Regions from separate parts of the Homo sapiens genome. Here region 2 is linked to region 1. A link means that fine-mapping ties the variant in region 1 to the expression of a gene that starts in the linked region. Tissue or cell type: whole blood. Region 1 holds a variant in brackets; the other region holds the start of a gene. All regions are shown on one strand. Distances are from middle to middle.

Evidence for each region. PIP is the estimated chance that this variant, and not a neighbour inherited with it, causes the effect.
Region 2: LY86-AS1 starts here. The variant in region 1 is fine-mapped to the expression of LY86-AS1 in whole blood (TOPMed, PIP above 0.99).

The regions. Positions count from the first base shown.
Region 1 is chr6:6,677,417-6,688,643 of GRCh38, forward strand. No RefSeq gene overlaps it. Among named protein-coding and RNA genes, the nearest start is that of LY86-AS1, 60 kb to the left of the region's middle. The variant A/C (reference allele first, on the strand shown) is at 5,013.
Region 2 is chr6:6,618,107-6,626,106 of GRCh38, forward strand. It overlaps LY86-AS1 (LY86 antisense RNA 1), which reads right to left and starts at 4,720. Exons shown (of 8, transcript NR_026970.1): 1 at 4,526-4,720. LY86 (lymphocyte antigen 86) reads left to right here. Exons shown (of 5, transcript NM_004271.4): 2 at 6,820-6,906.

The sequences.
Region 1 (11,227 bases):
GAACTGAAAAAAGGGTTCTGTTGAGATGAGACTGATGTTCCCAAGTCCTGAGTCCTCAAACCGAATCACTTTCCGGCAGCAACACCTGTCTTTAGCATGCAAACATCGGTCTCATAGAGTCTTCCCTGAAAGATGTTTAATGATCATGTCATTACTGTCACTCTTTTTTTTTTTTTTGAGAGTGAGTTTTGCTCTTGTTGCCCAGACTGGAGTGCAATGGAGCGATATCAGCTCACCCCAACTTCTGCCTCCCAGGTTCAAGCGATTCTCCTGCCTCAGCCTCCCGGGTAGCTGGGGTTACAGGCATGTGCCACCACGCCTGGCTAATTTTGTATTTTTAGTAGAGACGGGGTTTCTCCATGTTGGTCAGGCTGGTCTCAAACTCCCAACTTCAGGTGATCTGCCTGCCTCGGCCTCCCAAAGTGCTGGGATTACAGGCGTGAGCCACTGCGCCCAGCCACTGCCACCTTTTAAACTACAGAAGATGAGTGTGCCTGCTCAGACAATGAAGGACTCTGAGGGATTTGGAGAGCCACAAGGAGTCCAGACCTTAACCTGAGGGCAACAGCACCATTAAAAGTTTCTAAGACAAGGAGGAACACGGCTCCACCAATTTACAATGGCTAAGAAGAAAATAAGCTCGTCGGAAGGCAGGAAGTTGAGTCAATTTTCTATCCATGAATCTCAGCATTAGGTTGTTTTTATTGAACTTCTGATAGTACATCTTGAAGAATGCTAAGGAAAAGTCTAGAAAGGTGCTCTTAGTCTCCTTTCTCTACTGCAGAAGCCCTTTGTGATCTCCAGGGGAAGCAGCCCCCGTTTCCATATGGTCCCAGGGAGACGAACGACGGCAGAACATTTCATGTGCTGTGGAGGCACCTAGCTTCAGAATGTGAAAAAGTAACCAGAGCTCTCAAACCTCCCTTTCCTCATGTGTTAAATAGGGATAATAGTCCTTACGTCAGGGTTGTTGGGAGAGTGAAATGAGATCACATATGTGAGTCACTGACCTACAGTAAGTGTTTGGTAAACAGTAGTTATCATGGGCGGAGGCCTGACCTGGGAAACGGTCGGCAGGCACAGTAAACTCACCAGCAGATGCTAAAGGGAGCCCCGAGGCTCATCATACCCACCACATGTACACGCATACACACATACACACACACGCACTCATGCACACACACAAGCAGGCACAGAGCATCCCTCCTACATCTCACACATGCCAGGTCTTCCGGGAGTCACTTCTGTGCTTCAGCCAAGATGCCCTGGAAATTTTCCTTTTCTCACCTGCATGAAAATGCTTTTGAGGCCCCCCAGCCTCCGCCCGGAGTTTAGCCCCTTCAGACTCTGCACCCCTGGGGGTGGCCCTGACCCACCCACCCCTGGAGCCCACCATTCCAGGGCTCCCTGATTGTTTACATGGCAATAGAAAGCTTGAGATCAAGCTGAGGTTGCGGCGCATATTTGAACTACAGGGAAGGGAAAGTGTCCTGCTGAGGTTTAGAAGGAAGGTGGGGACTCACAGAAGCCACACAATGAAAAGTCACTGATGATAAATGCCGATTTCACACCCGTTAACCACGGAGAATGCGCCTGCACCAGGCCCAGGTGTCTCTTGACGGAACGAGGTGTGCCTCTCCCCGCGGTGTGCAGCCTGCCCTGTTCTTGCCCTGCAGTCTCATGGGAACTTGCACTGTTTACCAGAGCTAAGTCGGAGTTCATCAGCATTCACTCAGACCTATTCCAAGTGACTTCTCATGCCCAACCAGGCAGGGACAGGATGGCTCAGTCCCCTGCATAGAAACTTCCAAAGTTCTAAAAGAGTCTTACAGCAGAAAGGAGTTCAGTGCCAGGCCTAAATTGATTCCTTTAACAAAACCTGTGCAGGTTCTGGCTTACAGGACTTGGTTCCAAATGTTGGTTTGGAATGTCACTTCCATCAAAACAATGACTCTCAGGGTGGGTGTGTTTCCAGGATTCCCTCAAAAGACAGTTGAGCCCACTCTCATCCTCCCGCAGAGCCGGGAAGCCAGGGAAAGCCTGGCACATTGGGGAGACTGAGTCAAGTTCAAAATGGCCAGAGAATTGATGAGGAGGGCCAGGAATGGAGAGAGAAGAGAGAGAAAGTACACAGAGGCCCATCAGATAATGAAGGACTTTGGAAGCCACTTTAGGAGTCTGGACGTTACCCTGAGATAATGGGGTGCCATGGAAGGATTTTAAGTAGAAGCCCCACTGATCAAAAAGGCTGAAACTCTTCTCCCTTCAAAGTATTGCAACAGTAGAAGTAAACTCTGTGGCTGGTCCAGGGCCTGGAGCTGCAGGGGTTCTCGGACAGCATAGGAGACAGGGAGAGCAACGAGGGCCCTGGGCTCCCTGCCAGGGTGGGCAGGGAGGGGAGCCCCGAAGCTCTTGGTTTCAGCATAGGGAGTGGGAGAGGCCGGAAGGAGAGGCCAATAAGACACTTCCCAACTCAGGGAGCTCTTTTTAGGTGGGAGGCTATGTTTAATGCAGGTGTTCCTCAGGGGATGTCTGCATCCTGCTTTCTTGAAAATGCAGTTTCCTCCAAGCCTAGAAACTACTATCAGTCCAGACATGATGGCTACACGGCAGTGGTCATACAAAAAAAAAAAAAAGAAAGGTGCAAGATGTGCAAGATGGAAAGAATGGATCTATTTTATGTGGGACATTAGTTATCTGTAAACGTTTGACAAACACCAAAGGCTGGTGCCCTGCAGGCCACAGTATATTGATTTCTCTTTATGCCCAGATATGAACTGCATAAAACTTGAAGCCTGTGGGAAGTAATTTAAGGTTAAAATATTTTTATGATATAATAGTGTTTTTCTAAAAGCAAAGATAGTATAAATAAATACACCTGCACACCAATGATAAGGTTAAAATTGTATATTTAAATATATTAATAAATCAAGCCATAGGGCAAACCGAGAGCAATAAAGGCAACACAGATCCCTAATCATGAGTCAGTCAGCACTGCAGCAAACAGGCAAGGTGCTCGGACTGAAATATTTTCATAAAAGCCATACCAACTTTGCACAAATGAGTTTTTATTCTCTAGACAGCACATGTTATAACGTGAGCCTTTTAATTTTCCTCACTTTTCATTTATTTTGCTTTTGCTCTAGACAAATGCCAGGATTAACAAAAAACATTCTTTCTACATTTATTAAAAAACAAAAATATATTCAGAAACCTAGGCTTACAATATTGGAACTTCCCCTCTCAAAAAGCAAGACAGCTTCTTAGCTAAATTGCAAAAACATTGGCAGGCTTCCATGAGATTTCAAAAATAGTTAAATAGCAAGATGGCCCACATATTTTTCCATGAATACATTAAAAACAGATTGATGACTATTGAAACATGAAACATAACTACTACCATATTTTATGGAATCCAAAACTGCCTTGGTGTAAGACACACTGTTATTTAATGAAGGACTAAGAAAATATAAACACTGACAGAACTCTATCTGTCACAATGTTTTATCACTTAGACTTTTTAAAGCATATTACAAGAGCTCTTTTAGGCCTAATTGAACTTAGAATTTATTCATCATATATCACTCTTCTGCATGAGCAGAAAAGCAAAGATAGGTAAATCACTGGGTTACAGTATGCCTAAGACTTCACAGTCAGCCTCTAACTCTTTGGAATCACTCTTTGATTCTGGATCTTTTATATCCATGTCTTCCCAGACACTGTTGAACCTCGAGCCATCAAGAGCTTCCAGGAGGGTTTTGGTGAGGCCGTATAGCTTTGAAAAGTGCCAGACAATTGTCTTCAGGATTTTCATCTAAGCCTCTGACACCCATCCTCTGAGCTTTGATGTTCACACAAAGGCCACGGCAACCATGTCACACAGCTGCGATGGGAGTATGGGACCCGGAGATTTCAGAGTGGTTGGAGCAGAAGAAAGCATTCCTCTTAGAATCGGTGAAATACACTCAAATGTAATTTTTACTTTTGTGGTCTTCCACTTCCACTTTTCCCCCCACCTCCAACCAGATACATTTATATACATCTAAGTCCAAAGATAACTCAGGGAAGGAGAAAATTCTGACATCTATAATAAAAAGTAGGAAAAAACACATTTAAAAAAAACATGGCAAACCTATCATTGGGGATTATTGCGTCAGTCTACACTCCAGAATGTCTCCAGCTGGTACACGGTGTAAATTAGCACTGCTGGAAGCTAGGAGTACATGTGGGTTAAGAAGCCTGGGGAGGCTCAGGGCAACAGAAATAACACAGGCGCTGGGGTCAGCCCCAGCTGGGAATGGGTGGCGGCTTTCTCATTTAACTTGCCTGATGATGTCCATGCTACCTAACCTCTCTAAGCTCCAGGCTGCTCATCTATTAAAAGGATGATAATAGTACGTGTCTCACTGGGTTGTGATAAGAAGTAAATCAAGTCACAAATATAAAACACCACCAATAAATGCCAAATATATTTTGGTCCCCCCCCCATTTATCCCGTCCTCAATAAACAGCCCCAGACATCACCCAAAAGCTGAAAATAAATCAGAACCACTCAAAAACAAAGAAACAAAATTGAAGCATGCTTTTGTCTGTGTATCACTGAGATTCATGAATGGCAACTAATTCTCTCATATTTTTCCACCAACACAGAAAATAGTTACAGCTCAACATCGGGAGCAACATCTTTGGGTTTTTGACATTCTACTACAAATGGTGATCTTTTAAAGAATAGTATATGAACATGATCCAAGTCTGTTGAGAAGTGAGTTCAGCCACAACCTTTGGCATTCTTGGATGCAGTCAGACTCTTCCACAGCAGTGGCAAGTTCATGCCTGGGCAGACAGTTGGTGAGGACACAGCCCGATCCCAAGCCCAGCTCACTCCCAGTGGCTTCTCTCCCTCCCTTTCTGTGGGCACACCAGCTACAGTATTCTCCTGCCTGCCCCCAAATACAATGCCTCCACGCAGGGCATGCAGATGCAAACCTCTGCCTTCCAGGAAACCCAGCAAA[A/C]CTTCCTCCTTGGAGTTGGTTCCAGTAAAAGGTGGAGCTCACCCACAGTGGGCAGGAAGTTGAAAACACAATCCCAAACTCAGCAGCGACTTTCTTCTGAGGCCCTGGTAGCTCAGTTAATCATTTCACCTTGGTTTTCCATCTTTCTAATGGGAGTAATAGGCTTCCCTCCTCTACAAGTATGTTTTGAGAATTAAGTGTTTGGGGAATGTGGCTGTTTTGTATGCTCTGGTGGGTGGAACATTGAGAGAATACCAAACACTACTGTGGCGTATTTGTGGTGAACTGACAGCCTGACCCTTTAGTAAACCACATTACTAGGAATCGCGTCCATCACTACTCAAGGCTTTTATAGGTTAAAAAAAAAATCATGGCCAGGCGCGGTGGCTCACACCTGTAATCCCAGCACTTTGGGAGGCCGAGGCGGGCGGATCACCTGAGGTCAGGAGTTCGAGACCAGCCTGGTCAACACGGTGAAACCCCGTCTCTACCAAAAATACAAAAATTAGCTGGGCGTGGTGGCAGGCACCTGTAATCCCAGCTACTCAGGAAGCTGAGGTAGGAGAATCGCTTGAACCCGGGAGATGGAGGTTGCAGTGAGCCGAGATCACGCCACTGCACTCCAGCCTGGGCAACAAGAGCGAAACTCCATCTCAGAAAAAAAAAAAAAAGAAATCATGTAGTAGATGATTCTCTCTCTCTCTTTACCTCTCTCTTTATCTCTCTCCCCACCCTTTTCTCTCTCCATCTCCTTTCTTTCTCTCCCTCCCTTTCTCCTCTCCTCTTTCCCCATCTCTCCCTTCCTCTGTCTCTCCCTTTCTTTCTCCCCCTTCTCTTTCTCTTTCCCTCTCTCTCTCCTGTTTTTGGTCTGTGCAGGTTCATGTCTCCTCTGTTGTGGTAACAGCACTCCTTTCCTCTGGGCTTTTGCAACACTCTCCCCCACAATACCTCCTCCAATCCCTCTCCTATTTGGGGACCCCAGGCAAAGACCCAGGACTCAGGCCTCCCTGGTTATAACATCCCACCTGCCTCAGCCTGGGTTTCCCCCAAGGCAGAGCCTCACCAGCAGGTAGCTTATTAGAAAGAGGGCACAGGGATCAGGGGCGAGGCAAGGAGCAAAAGTCAATAGACCAATGAGTTAATAAGTCGGCCGCCAAGGTGGATGTCTGGGGGAAGATCTTGCCAGGGTTGTCCCAGCAACCTACAGCGTGCACCTTAGAACTGTCTGCCTGAGGGAAAAAAGGCAGGAACATTTAGCCATCGGCTCCTTCCCCTAGCTCCTCTGCTCCTTATTTCCAGGTAAAGCACATACGAGTATTGGGTGGGTTGTGCCCGTGTCCCCCACCAGAGTTTAGGAGAACTGCAGTAGGAGGCAACCCAAGTCAAGGTGAGCCACTCAGGATGTGACTGATGCCATGGCCAAGATGAGAGATAGTTCTGAGAAAATGCAAGACTTGTACAAAAGCTGTCCAGCGCACCATTCCTGGGTATTCTTCCAACAAAGGCACTTCTTAGAAAGCTGTTTTAACCTTATGACACTTTTAAAATTATAGCATTTCAGAATCCAGGAAACTTGATATAGCTCAGGGAGAGTCCCAGTGCACATTAACATATTACATTCTCTAAAAAGTTCTGCAACTTCTTTATCTCAAACGCTTGTTCCCCATGGTTAATCATCAACCAGAAACAGACACTAGGTCATGCTGCAGGAAAGCTTCCATAGAAAGCAGCAGGTAAGCAAATTTCCTTCAGATACTTTTGTGCAATTGATTCAAAGAGGAGGGTCAGGAATGCCATTTCTCAGAGGAGTAAAGCTCATTCACGCAGAAACAACCTGATACCATCAACAAGAATGTCTATATATTGAAGGTCAAGAATAATGAAAAAACTCAGTGATAATATACACCCTGTTTGTGAGGCACTCATCACATTATGGAACATTCAGGCAGTCCTCACCTTGCATAGTTCCCAAACGCACGAATTTTCATTGCCCTGTGGCAACTGAGGTTAAATAACACCAGCCCCCTAACAACATGGTTCCAATTTCAGTCACCATTAACTGTGAGTGATTGCATGGGGGACAACCTCTGCTGCTTGCTCTGCAGTCCACAGACCACCACGTAATAACAGATGTGCATCATGATCAGTGATTAACCGCATCACGTCCTTCAGTCCTTCCGTGTTATCAGTTCCCACACAGACAGCAAAGCGTGTGGTCGTGCTGCTCTCTTGGCTCCCAGTGACAAACCCACGTGACATTTCACAGAAATGAATACTCAAGAGAGGTAGGTAGCCAATGAAGAGGAAAGTATAGCAAAGAAACAAAAAGTGAGAATGCAGGAGGTGAAAGTTGACTCAGACGTAAACGAGTTTAGAGAAGAAAGAGCTGATGGTGGGAAAGTTGATGCTGTTGTCTTTTGAGAGATTCTGGATGTGTCTTTTGAGGGACTCAGGATAAAGATGCTGGCAAAAACTTCATATTAAAGAAACTCTTGGAGATATTTCACAGCACTGAAAGTGTGCAGGACAAAATGTAGGAAGCCTATCCAAATATAGAAAGGAATGTGACAATTTGCCAAGGCATAGAAAAGATGCCTGGTCCATACTGTAAGTTTCACAATGAGAAGGTGGCAAAGCCCTTTTCAATTTACTCTCCATAAGTCTTTTACAAAGAAATAAAACACTATTTCTCAATGTTTCTCATTTTTTAAATTATGACAGGCTAAATAAGTATTCAATTTGCTATCTTTAAATGTTCTTATACATTTACGACCAGTAGTAAAACAGTTCTTAACACTTTAAAAATTTTTTGAAGATTATGAAACAATCATAATTTTCCTTGTTGCTTCTTAAAATTGCTTCACAGTTTCAACCTGCACAATCATTTCTTCAGTCCCACACTTTCGTGCAAAGCAAAGACTTTACAATGCTGTGATGTTGTAAAGAAAATTCCCGTTGTCCTACTCTGAATCATTTGACAAATGCAACTGAACCCACCACGATGGAGTTGTGTAATACCAAGGTTACATGAATCTTTCTCTCACATAGTTTGCAGTTGAGGAAGAGGGATGGCAAGTCAACCAACATAATGGTTAAGGCTGACATTGATTGATAGCTTTCTGTGTGCTGGGCACTGTGCTGGTCCTTTTGTTACAGTGCATTGCCTCCAAGGTGGAGCTTTAGGAGGGGGATGATAATGAAAACTTCGGAGACCATGGGGACTTCATCCTTTAGAGCTTGGGTCCTCGTGCCTGTGTGTGAAGAAAGGCCCAGCCAGGAAGGCAGCGTCCCTCTTTTCTGCCCACACCTACAGGCTCCCAAGGCAGGGCCAAGGTGGATGTGAGGCCTGAGACGGGAACTCAACACAGCAGTCCCCTGTCATAAGGACAAGACTGGAAGTTGGCCAAGGTTTGCCAGCATATCATCGCATAAGATGCAAATGCCCGGGGATTCTTCTAACGTGGTGTTAGGCAGATGTACTTCATATCTTCTCCCTGTTTATCTAATTTCATGAAGGCACATTTCAGGAGAGTAAGCTGCCGCAAAGGGTATACATTGTGCCTTGGAAAACTCCCGGGCATGAAAACTATAAACCAGCCATCCAAATTACCTTCACATTTAGGAAATCATTACTGTTGATACGATGTGTCTTTGTTGGATCGTTGTATCTTGGCAGTCTCTTCGAGCCTGTGCTTTTTAGCCTTCTCTCCACCTGTACTTTTAGGCATTGCTTACTTTTTTATAGGCAAAAAGATTACATATGTGCACATGTGTGTGGCTACATGTGGGTAAATATGTATGTATCGGTAGGGGTACTGTATTAGTAGCTGGGGCTGCCATAATAAAATACCACAGATGCGGCAGCTTACACAACGGAGCTTTATTCCCTCGCAGTGCTGGGGGCTGGAAGCCCCACATCCAGGTGTGGGCGGGATTGGTTTCTCCTGAGGCCTCCCTCCTGGGCTTGCAGATGGTGTCCTCTCCCTGTGTCCTCACACCGTCTTCCCTCTGTGGGTGTCTGTGTCCTCATCTCCTCTTCCTATAAGGACTCCTGACATATTGGATTAGAGCCCATTCTAATGCCTTCGTTTTACCTTAATTATCTTTTTAAAGGCCTCATCTCCAAATACAGTCCCAGTCTGAGGTATGAGGAGGTTAGGGCTTCAAATATGAATTTTGAGGGACACATTTCAGATTATAACAGATACATACATATGTATATCCTATAAATGAAAATGTCAGGACGGATTTTAGAGATACAAGTTTTTACTTAATTATGATCCCCCAGCGATCTCATCTCCTCTTAGTCTCAATTTTTCTTGTCTAAGAGAGGGTGCTCCTACCCACATCTTCAGTCCAAATCCCTCTCCTGAAGGTCGGACCCGCATTTGCAGTGACGGTGACTGGACATTTTCTCCCAGGTGTTCGTCAACACTTTCAGCCCTACAGGTCTGAAACAAAACTTACCCACCTCCAGTGAAGCTCGTCCTCCTGGCCTTTCTGCTTCCTTTTTAAAGTCCATCCCCCTCCAGGCCTCCCATTACCGGCTGGGAGCCCCGCCCCTTCCTGGGCCTCCTCCTCCGGGGCTTTCAGCTCCTGGCTGGGAGCCCCGCCCCCTCCAGTCCGCCTTTCCAGGCTGAGAGCCCCGCCCATTCCAGGCCTCATCTCCTGGCTGGAAGCCCCGCCCACTCCAGTCCTCACCCTCCAGGCTGAGAGCCCCGCCCATTCCAGGCCTCATCTCCTGGCTGGAAGCCCCGCCCACTCCAGTCCTCACCCTCCTGGCTGGGAGCCCCGCCCACTCCAGGCCTCACCCTCCAGGCTGGAAGACCCGCCCCTCCCGGGCCTCCGGATCCTGGCTGGGAGCCATCTCTGCCTCCTGCCGCTTCCTGCACTCCTGATCAGGTCAGTGGCCAGTCACAGACCTCTGAAATGTCCTTCCTGACTGTTAGCTCCACAGCATTCCTACAGCTCCCGCCGCAGTTCCGCCCTCCGGAGGGTTCCAACAGCAGCCCAGTGCGCCTCCCCAGCCCCAGGCTCCCTCCACTCCAGTGAGCCTGCACCTGGCGCTCCCTGGCACACATATTTTCCATTGCTCTTCACTGCCAATTAAATGCAAATTTCTCATCGTGGGGTTCCAAGTTCTCTGTATTTGGTCCTCTTATCCTGACAGCTCTACCCTCCCCAGAGCACTACAATCTGGCCAAGAGCCTCACCAGCCTATTCCCCCGAACCATTGTTTTATTTATTTTAGATTCAGGGGTATTTGTATGCAGGTTTGTTACATAAGTATATTGCGTTATGATAAGGTTTGTGCTTCTGATGATGATCCAGTCGCCCAACATAGTACCGGATAGTTAGGTTTTCTTCCATTGCCCCCCTCTCCCTCCTTCCTTTTGGGGTCCCTGGTGTCTGTTATTCCCATGTTTATGTCCTTATGTACCCAGTGTTTAGATCCCACTTATAAGTGAGAGCATGTGGCATTTGGTTTTCTGTTTCTGCATTAGTTTGCTTAGAATAACGACTGCCAGCTGCATCCATGTTGCTGCAAAGGACATGATTTCCTTGTTTTTTATGACTGCACAGTATTCCATGGCCAAAAAAATGTGGTATAAAAATATGTACCACATTTTTTTAATCCAGTCCACAGTCGATGGGCACCTGGGTTGATCACATGTCTTCACTATTGTGAACAGTGCTGCAATGAACATACGTGTGCAGGTGTCTTTTTGGTAGGACTATTTATATTCCTTTGGGTATATACCTAGTAATGGGATTGCTTGGTCTAATATTCATTCTATTTTAGATCTTTAAGAAATCTGCAAACTGCTTTCCACAGGGGCTGCATTAATTTGCATTCTCACCAAAGTGTGTAAGTATTCCCTTTCTCCTCAACCTCTCCAGCATCTGTTATTTTTTGACTTTTTCATAATAGCCATTCTGACTGGTGTGAAATAGTACTTTATTGAAACCACTGCTTTAGAAAGTGAAAGTCCTTTTCAGGTTTGTTTTTCATTCACTGGCAGAGGTTGCTGGCCCAGCAGGGGTTGTGCAAACTCTGTCTTTGTTCCCCTGTATTTGCCTTCCTCTCCCTTTTTCCTTCCTTTCCCTTTCTCAATACACACACACACACACACACAACATGTACAGAAGGGCTCTTATCTGAAATAATCAATAAATATCAAGGACGTGAAGATGTCATGCAAGGAGCAAAGGGG
Region 2 (8,000 bases), 61 kb before region 1:
CTGGGATTACAGGCCTGAGCCACCGCGCCTGGCTAGCGCATTGTTGATCTACTCCTAAGATGCAAAGATCAGACAAAACTGCCTCAATTAGGTCATTATTTTCCTCAAGACATTTGGCAAGATATTTTGGGCAGAAGAGTGTCTTCATTGCCACTCATCTGTTATGGTCTCTCATGTTTATATCATGATAGAAAAGCCATCTCCTCCTATGCTGATAGAAGCCAAACTTAGGTTATTCTGAGAAAGTGGAACTTAGAGGCCAGAGGGGCCATGCAAGATTCCTACTCCTTTTCTGTCAATAAAAAGGCTTATTATGAATTCAATTTTTTTTTTTTTGCAATTAAAAGCAGACAAGCTAGGGATCCAGAATTTTGAGTTTAGCAGCCCAAACATACCTTCTCACTCAAAAACATATTCACCAAGGTTGCCAGGCAGCCAGCAGGATGTTGCAGATTTTACCATCTCATATCACAAATAGTCGATATTCCATTATGATGGTGTTCATTTTATTTTTGTTGCATTTGATAGCAAGAAACATGTTTAAGTATTTTGAACACACCGTTTACATATCTGAGATGAAACCGGAAGCCAGTTCATACGTATGACTTGAATGTGTGAGTCAATTCCCGAGGAAATGCTGGCATAAGAGAGTCAAATGGGAGTGGAACTACTATTATTTGAAATAATGACCCATTGGGGAGCCTTGCTGTGCTACAGTAATAAGATTTGACAGGTAGAAAAAAGAAGAGATCAGGACATAATAGAAAACCACAGCTAGAATACATTTACCACATTGTAAATTATTTCTTTTTCCACAAAGGTGGGGAGGGAGTATGAGGGGAGGAGGAGGAGGGAACACAGTGGCATTAAGGACAGAAAAGAAGAAAGTTAATTTTGCATTGTGCTGGTAATGGATTTCCAGCAATGCGATTTTACTGAAGCCTTATGCATCATCCTCCTGTAAAGGTCTACGGTGACCCTTGAACGTCATCCTATGAATTCGCCAAGAAAATTAAGACACTCCAGTAAAAGTACAGCCATGAAAGAAGACAGACTTCTAGATCCATGCCCAACTAGATCTGTTTGATAAATAGAACACAAGCTGGCAGAATTGGCCATCAGCCAACCTAAAAGAAGAAATCAAAAGCAAGGTCTGTTTGTTATTTTGTTACATTTGGGAAAGAATTCTGAAAGATGCAGAGGAATATCTGCTACTATTTGGCCCGGGACTAGCAGTTCAACCACACTCAGACACTCTGTCTCCAGTGCCAAGTGGTTCTGTTTCTCTAGAGAACCCTAACACACCCCCCCATTATTAAACAACCATCCAGTACTGTTTTATTGAGCAGTCAGAAGCAGACCAGCTTTATTCACATTCTGTTAACCCAATTTTTCCTTCCCTCCATAAACTGTTTGCTAGAGGCAGTCTTGCCAGTGCAGCTAAGCTGCCTGTGGCTGGTAAGGTCTCCTGGGCCCTCTACGCCCTTTCTCCTCCGCAGGTCGTGCCTCTATTGGAAGCATGCTTGTAATACCTAACATCCTCCTGGGGCCAGCCTGTGTTCTGCCAAAAGCACATGCAGGAAGCAATACCAGCTCTTAGAGTAATGTGGGCCACAGGGAATGAGCCATGAATGTTAAGATGTGTTTGAAGAAAAGTCAGTGTTCTTAATCTCAGGATGGTAGCCAGATCTAAGTACTGGTATGAGAAGAAAAAGAGAAACAGAGAGAGAGAAAGGGAGGGAGACAGGGAGAGAGGGAAAGAATGAGAGACAGGAAGAGAGAAGAGGAGAGCTAGGAGAAAGGGAGGGGGAGAAAGACTACCTTTACAAAGCAGGAAGGACATTGCAATCTTGGGGTTGCACTTGGCCATGAGTATGTGGAAGGCTGGTGGAAGTGAGATTGGAGGGGGGTCAGCTCCTTTTCACAGCGACTCTGCTGTAAGAATTCTACCTTCCCCTGAGAGGAGGAAGACCAATTTCTAACCATTTTAAACCCAAGCAATAGAAATGTAAAAAACAGGCACATACATGCGCTTGTACACACACACACACGAATGATTGTTAAACTGGTGACATCTGAATAAACTTTGTGGATTGTATCAGTGTCAATGTCCCAGTTTTGGTATTGTCCTCCATGTAAGATCTTACCATGGGGGATGATGGGGAAAGACATATGAGACCTCTCTGTATCTTTTTGCAACTTCCTGTGAAAATATAATTATTTCAAAATATAAAGCTAAAGAAAAACCTCAAGTAGAGCTAGAATATGGAAAATGGGACTAGCTGTGTAAGAGTTGGGCCCTCCTCTATGCCTCAAACTAACCAGCCAGCAACGCAGAGGCCACAGGGGGCGGAGCTACATCCATGGCCTCCAGGACTTAGGGACATACATCCAAGCTTTCCGGCTGCCTGAAGTCAAATCAAGGATTGGTCCAGTGGAGTGTACCCGGGCCCCCACCATCCTCTGCTGAGGAATTTCACTTCCAGAGTCTGTGTCATTGGATTTTGTCTTCTTCCTACTGATTCCAGTTGAAAGCCCACTGCTAGCTGTTAATAGAAGCCATTCTGACAAGGTTGTCCTCCCCTCGACAGCTGCCCAGGTCTAGCCCAGCCTAGGCCACTAATGGAGGGTGGAAGGCACAACAATACCTTTGGAGCTGATATTTGTTCAAACGCTGCTCACTCTAAACCTGGCTTGTTTATCCAACTCTATTTTACTCCATGAATGTCCAAGAAAACTTTTCTAGAAGAGATTTGATTGTTGCTGCCCTTTGTATGCAAAACAGATGCTGCTGGCTGCTCTCCTAGAGCTCTTCCTCACTTCTGGCAGGGTTCACATGCTGCTGGTTTGGAGAAGCCTGCCTTCGAGGGCCCACATGCCCGGGGGAGAGGGGAGCAGGGGCAGTTTGGGGTGTGCTGGATTCACCCACTATAATGCTGTCCTCCCTTGGGTGGAAGCCATAGAAGTCAACAGGACAGACAGCAAGGGAGTGCCACATAGAGGCCAAGGAAGAAATATTGAAAATGAACAGTCTTCTATTTCGTGATGAAGTTTTGACTTCTTTCCTCAGGTCATTTGCTGAAATACAGTGAAGTATCTGGAGGAAACACTTATCTCTGCCCTTGAATTCCCAGAACGCCAACTCTGATTAACTTTCCGATGTTATTGCTTCAGAAAGTCCAAAGTCAGATGATCCGTCTTACATGTATTAAAAGTTACTGAGGCAAGGGTCCAAGGGAAAGTCTCTCCGCTCTCAGCCTGTCCGTCACTGTTCATACTGTAGAAGGAGAACTACTTTAAAATGCAACCTACCATCTTTTATATTGGTAGGTGATTCTGAGGCATTTGCAGGATAGGTAAAGCCTGGAAATTGATACAGTGATTATTTAAAGCAGTGATCGCCACCAGGGGTGAGTTTATCCCTCATGGATACTTTGGTAAGGTCTAGAGATATTTTTGGTTTCACAACTAGAGGGTATGGGGATGCTACTGGCATCTGGTGGGTAGAGACCAGGGATGCTTCTAGACATCCTATGATGTGCAGAACAGCACCCACCACAAAGGATATCCAAAACAAAATGTCAATAGTGATGACATTGAGGAATCCTGCTTTAAGGTTCTCGGCAAATTTACTACAAATAACCACTACTATTCATCCAGCAAACAATCACTGGAGATTTAGTATGATATTAAGACATTATGTATAGCCCTGGCACTGGGGAGTTAGCTTTGCAGTATCTAGTGGAGGAATGACAGAGGTATACAAACAAATATAATGTAATATAAAACATGCAAAGTGCCTGAGTGGAAATGCAAATAAATACAGAGAAGGATATGAGTTTGAGAGGGTGGGGTTGGGGGAGGAGGAAGAACCAATGTCACTTTCCCCAAGAGGACCACAAACTGCATGTTTACACTCAAAGATATCACTCTTGCATATAAATTTGAAATAACTGCTAGGAAAGCTCACCAAACCCTTAAGCGCTTTTTAAGCAATCTGTCTTTCTGCTTTTATATACATATCCTCAGAGAGATGCAGCCTACAGCTTTCTTTGTGACTTTGTTCTTTATTGAGATTATTTTCCTAACAACAATGTGTTTCTAGTACCAAGAAAATGCTTTATTTCCTTCTCCCGCCCTTAGTTGATTCTTTCTATCTATACCTTTAAAATATTGATAAACATACAGTGTAATTCTATAGCTGCTAATCAACAACACAATACGTACTTAGCCTCTTTTATTTTGCCTGGATAGCAACTTAAATTTATCCACAATTTTGAGGATTCACCTTCCTAAGCATCTGTTCATTGGCTTCTGTCTTTTTCAATACTGAGTGCCAAGGATGTAGCAGGAACTATCGTCTCCAACCCCCTGCTCCTATTTTCCAGGCTGAAAGAAACCCTGGGACAGCACAGAGATACTTAGGAAGGAGTCCAATGAGCATAAGACAAAAGGGCTCTTTCCCACCCTTAGGAAAATTAGTGACTGGACCAAAGGGGTTTTGATCAAACAAAAGTGTACTTACGTTAGATTTGCAAGGCTGAAATTGCCTAGTGATCATTTCCATTGCAGATATCATAGACAATGATGCATCTTCCAGGTCAGCAATGTGGATGATAAAACTGTCTGGAACACTACATTGGCAAATGTGAGCTCATAGCTAAGCTGAAATGGAAATCAGTTATGAAACAGAACTACCAGATGCCATATGCCTGCACACAAAATATTCTGGGCAATCTTACAAATCAAATAAGTAACATATGTAGTTGAGGTTCTACTTTGTGAGTTTCACTGCACAATACCCGGGAGCAATTTGTTTGTTTGTTTGGTTTTAACTCTGGCTTTGAATCTTGACTCTGACACTTTCTAGTGTGGGGATCTAGATAAGTTAATACAACATCTCCGAGTCTATATTTTCGTAACAGTAAAATGAGGTAAATCATACCTATCTCTTCAGATTATTGTTTATTCTGCAGGTCTGGGTGCTGTCAGGAAAACGAAGACCATATCAGTTATTTTAACAGAGAGAATTTGATATAGGAAGTTGGTTAGAGAACCAGTTGCTGGAGAACCAAAAGAGCAAAGAAAGGACCCCTGAAGGCTGGGAGAGCAAAAGGCAGAGGTTGTGGGGATTAGAAACTGGATGCTTGACAGAAGGACCCTGTGGAGCTGAGACACAGGCTGCTAAGGAAAGGGTGACAGCTTCTGATGTGCTGTTACTGCAGTAGCTTAGGGCCCCGCAGAGCTGAGTCTCAGCTGAAGCTGGGAAGGTGCAAGAGAGCTGGAAACTGGAACCAACTGCCACTGCCAACATGATGGGCCATCACCAGTGACACTCCCAGCAAGTACTCACGAAGGAGCAAGTCCCTTCTTCGACTCCAGCCTCCATCTCTCTGCTACCTTGACTGGCAGACAGTGAAGGAGAAACATGATTACCGAGAGCCCAGTGAAAAAGCAGAGGAAAGAGGGCTGGATTTGGAGCTGAGAAACAGCCCCAATATATGGCCCATCCATTCACTCAACATGTACATTTATGGAGTGCTTACTGTGGATCAGACTGTGAGGCTGTGAGGCTCTCTGCTAGGTGTTGGGGAACCTAGAGAATTAAATGGAAAACACTCCTAAAGTACAAGGCTCAGCTATTAGTACAAGGTAAACCCTCTGTTAAAAATAGCTCTCCTATCTCCAGTCCAGTGGGAAACATAAAGGAAAAGGAAATGGAAAGCAAAACAAACAAAACAAAACAAGAAACCAGCTCTGGCCTTTAAGAAATCTCATGTTTAGATTCAGTGTTGCAGGATAAGCCACGTAGCAAAGTGCAGAGTGATACATGTTTGTACACTTTACCAAGAATGCCAGACATCGCTGTTTTAAGAGTTCAAGGAAGCAAGAGAATATATGGGGGCAGGGAAGCCTTCACAAAGAAGATGGGAATGAGCAAGACCTGAGGATTTAGATAATGGCCAAAAAGACTAAGACCATTGCAAATGGGAGAAAGCACACAAGCAAATCAAACATGGTGGGAATGTGCTGGTGTGTATGTTGCCACTCTGGCCTCAAGGAATGAAGGATGGATTTGTGATGTGGAGGATGGAAGTTGGAGCCAGTCGCTCATTTCTGGACTGTATTCTGAGGCATAGATAAGCCATTGGAGCTTTGTGAATGAGCAGAAGTTGTATGCAGAAAATATTATCTTTATAGCCCCTATCATATCTAACACAATACCTTGTACATAGTGGAATATTTGGAGGAGGAAGCATTACATTAAATGGGATGGGATGGGATGGGATGGGATGGGATGGGTTGGGATGGGATGGGATAAAATGGAATTAGAAAGGCAGGTCTTAACTTTGAAAATCTTTTTAGAAAATATTTTGAGCCTAAGTATTAATGTCTACTCAAGCTCTCCTAACTTTTGTATCTCCCTCTGTTTTGATAATAATAATAGATACTTTATTAAATCCGCTATGCAATCCATGAGCAATTTTAAGGCCAAACGTTCAGGAACTAAAAAAATTCAGGCAATGATAAACATTTTCTATGATAAAAACATTAACAAGTAAAGATATAACCCAACTAGCAAGACCCTGTTTATTCCATGGATGGAGGCCCCCTGTTGTCAGAGTGAACATGATGTTGGCTTTGAAGACACGGGGGGGAGCTGATGAAAATATCATGGGCTTATTTTAAAAAGTGTTGGGCAATATGCTTTTGAATAAATGTAGCAATTCATGTGAAAACAATATTGTTGCAAATTTTGAATATGTTTGCAAAATATACGATGTACTCGCAACTAATCTATTGTTTTCTTCTTCGTAGATCCATTACAAGATTTTGGCTTTTCTGTTGAAAAGTGTTCCAAGCAATTAAAATCAAATATCAACATTAGATTTGGAATTATTCTGAGTAAGTAAAAAAAATGATTAGCATGAAATAAAACATTGCACAGCCTCTTCCAACTCCACACACCCAATGACTTATGTTAACTGTAATGACTGGCTAAACTACTGTTCCCTCACCACTCTCTGGAATTAACTCTATTTATATCTTCATTTTCAAATCTTTCTCTGGGTTATATTCAGGTAGGGTAGAACTCTCACTTAAAGCTGTACTTTTGTATTAAAAAGACTCTAGGCACTCATTTGGATGATATAAGCACCTGGAATCAGTATACCCAGCAAAAAAAAAGGAAAATATTTTGAGATTAAGTATTAATGTCTACTCAGGATCTCCTAACTTTTTTAGTTATCTCAGCAACAAATAAATCTACTACCAGCGGTACGGTTTGTCATTTGTGTTATTTTGTATCCCAAATAGTTAATACAAATTCTTAAACTTTGACATCGGCAAGGAGGAGATGTAATATTTTCTCTCCTACCCCAATCAGTAAGCTAGAGCACTTTCTGATTGTTTAATTTTCATATGATCATGCAATTATAGTTGGTCAATATATTTTCTATAGCTACTAGACGACCTCCTTTTCCAAAGCAGTTATATCAAAATCAAAGTAGAGAGGTTTAATAAACTTAGCATGTGGAATCATTCCAGAGAAATGGAGGGAACATTCATAGAAATCAAGAACTCTCACGCATCTTTGTATTTCTAGAATCTTACACAGTATCTGGACTCTAGCAGCAGCTGGAGAAATGTTATGGGGAGAGAAAAAGCGAGAAAAGAGAAATAGAAGAGTGGGTGGAACATAAAAGGGAGGAATGGAGAAAAAGAGAGAATTGGAAGCCACCACCATGGAACCCGCTGCAGCTTCCTGTGCACCTGTGCTGCAATACCTCCCTGGCAACAGCAGCAGGTGTATGTAGGCGTGACCACACCCCACCGCCATCATGGGGAACAAATGATACTATGCAACTGAGAAATTCCAGAAGCCAGACCTGCAGACATCACATTAAAAGGCCATAGCATCAGGGTGGGGAGCTCAGCTGATTAACTACCTTGTTCCAAGCAGGTATTTTGAGAAACAGCCACCTTTCATACGCAGGGCC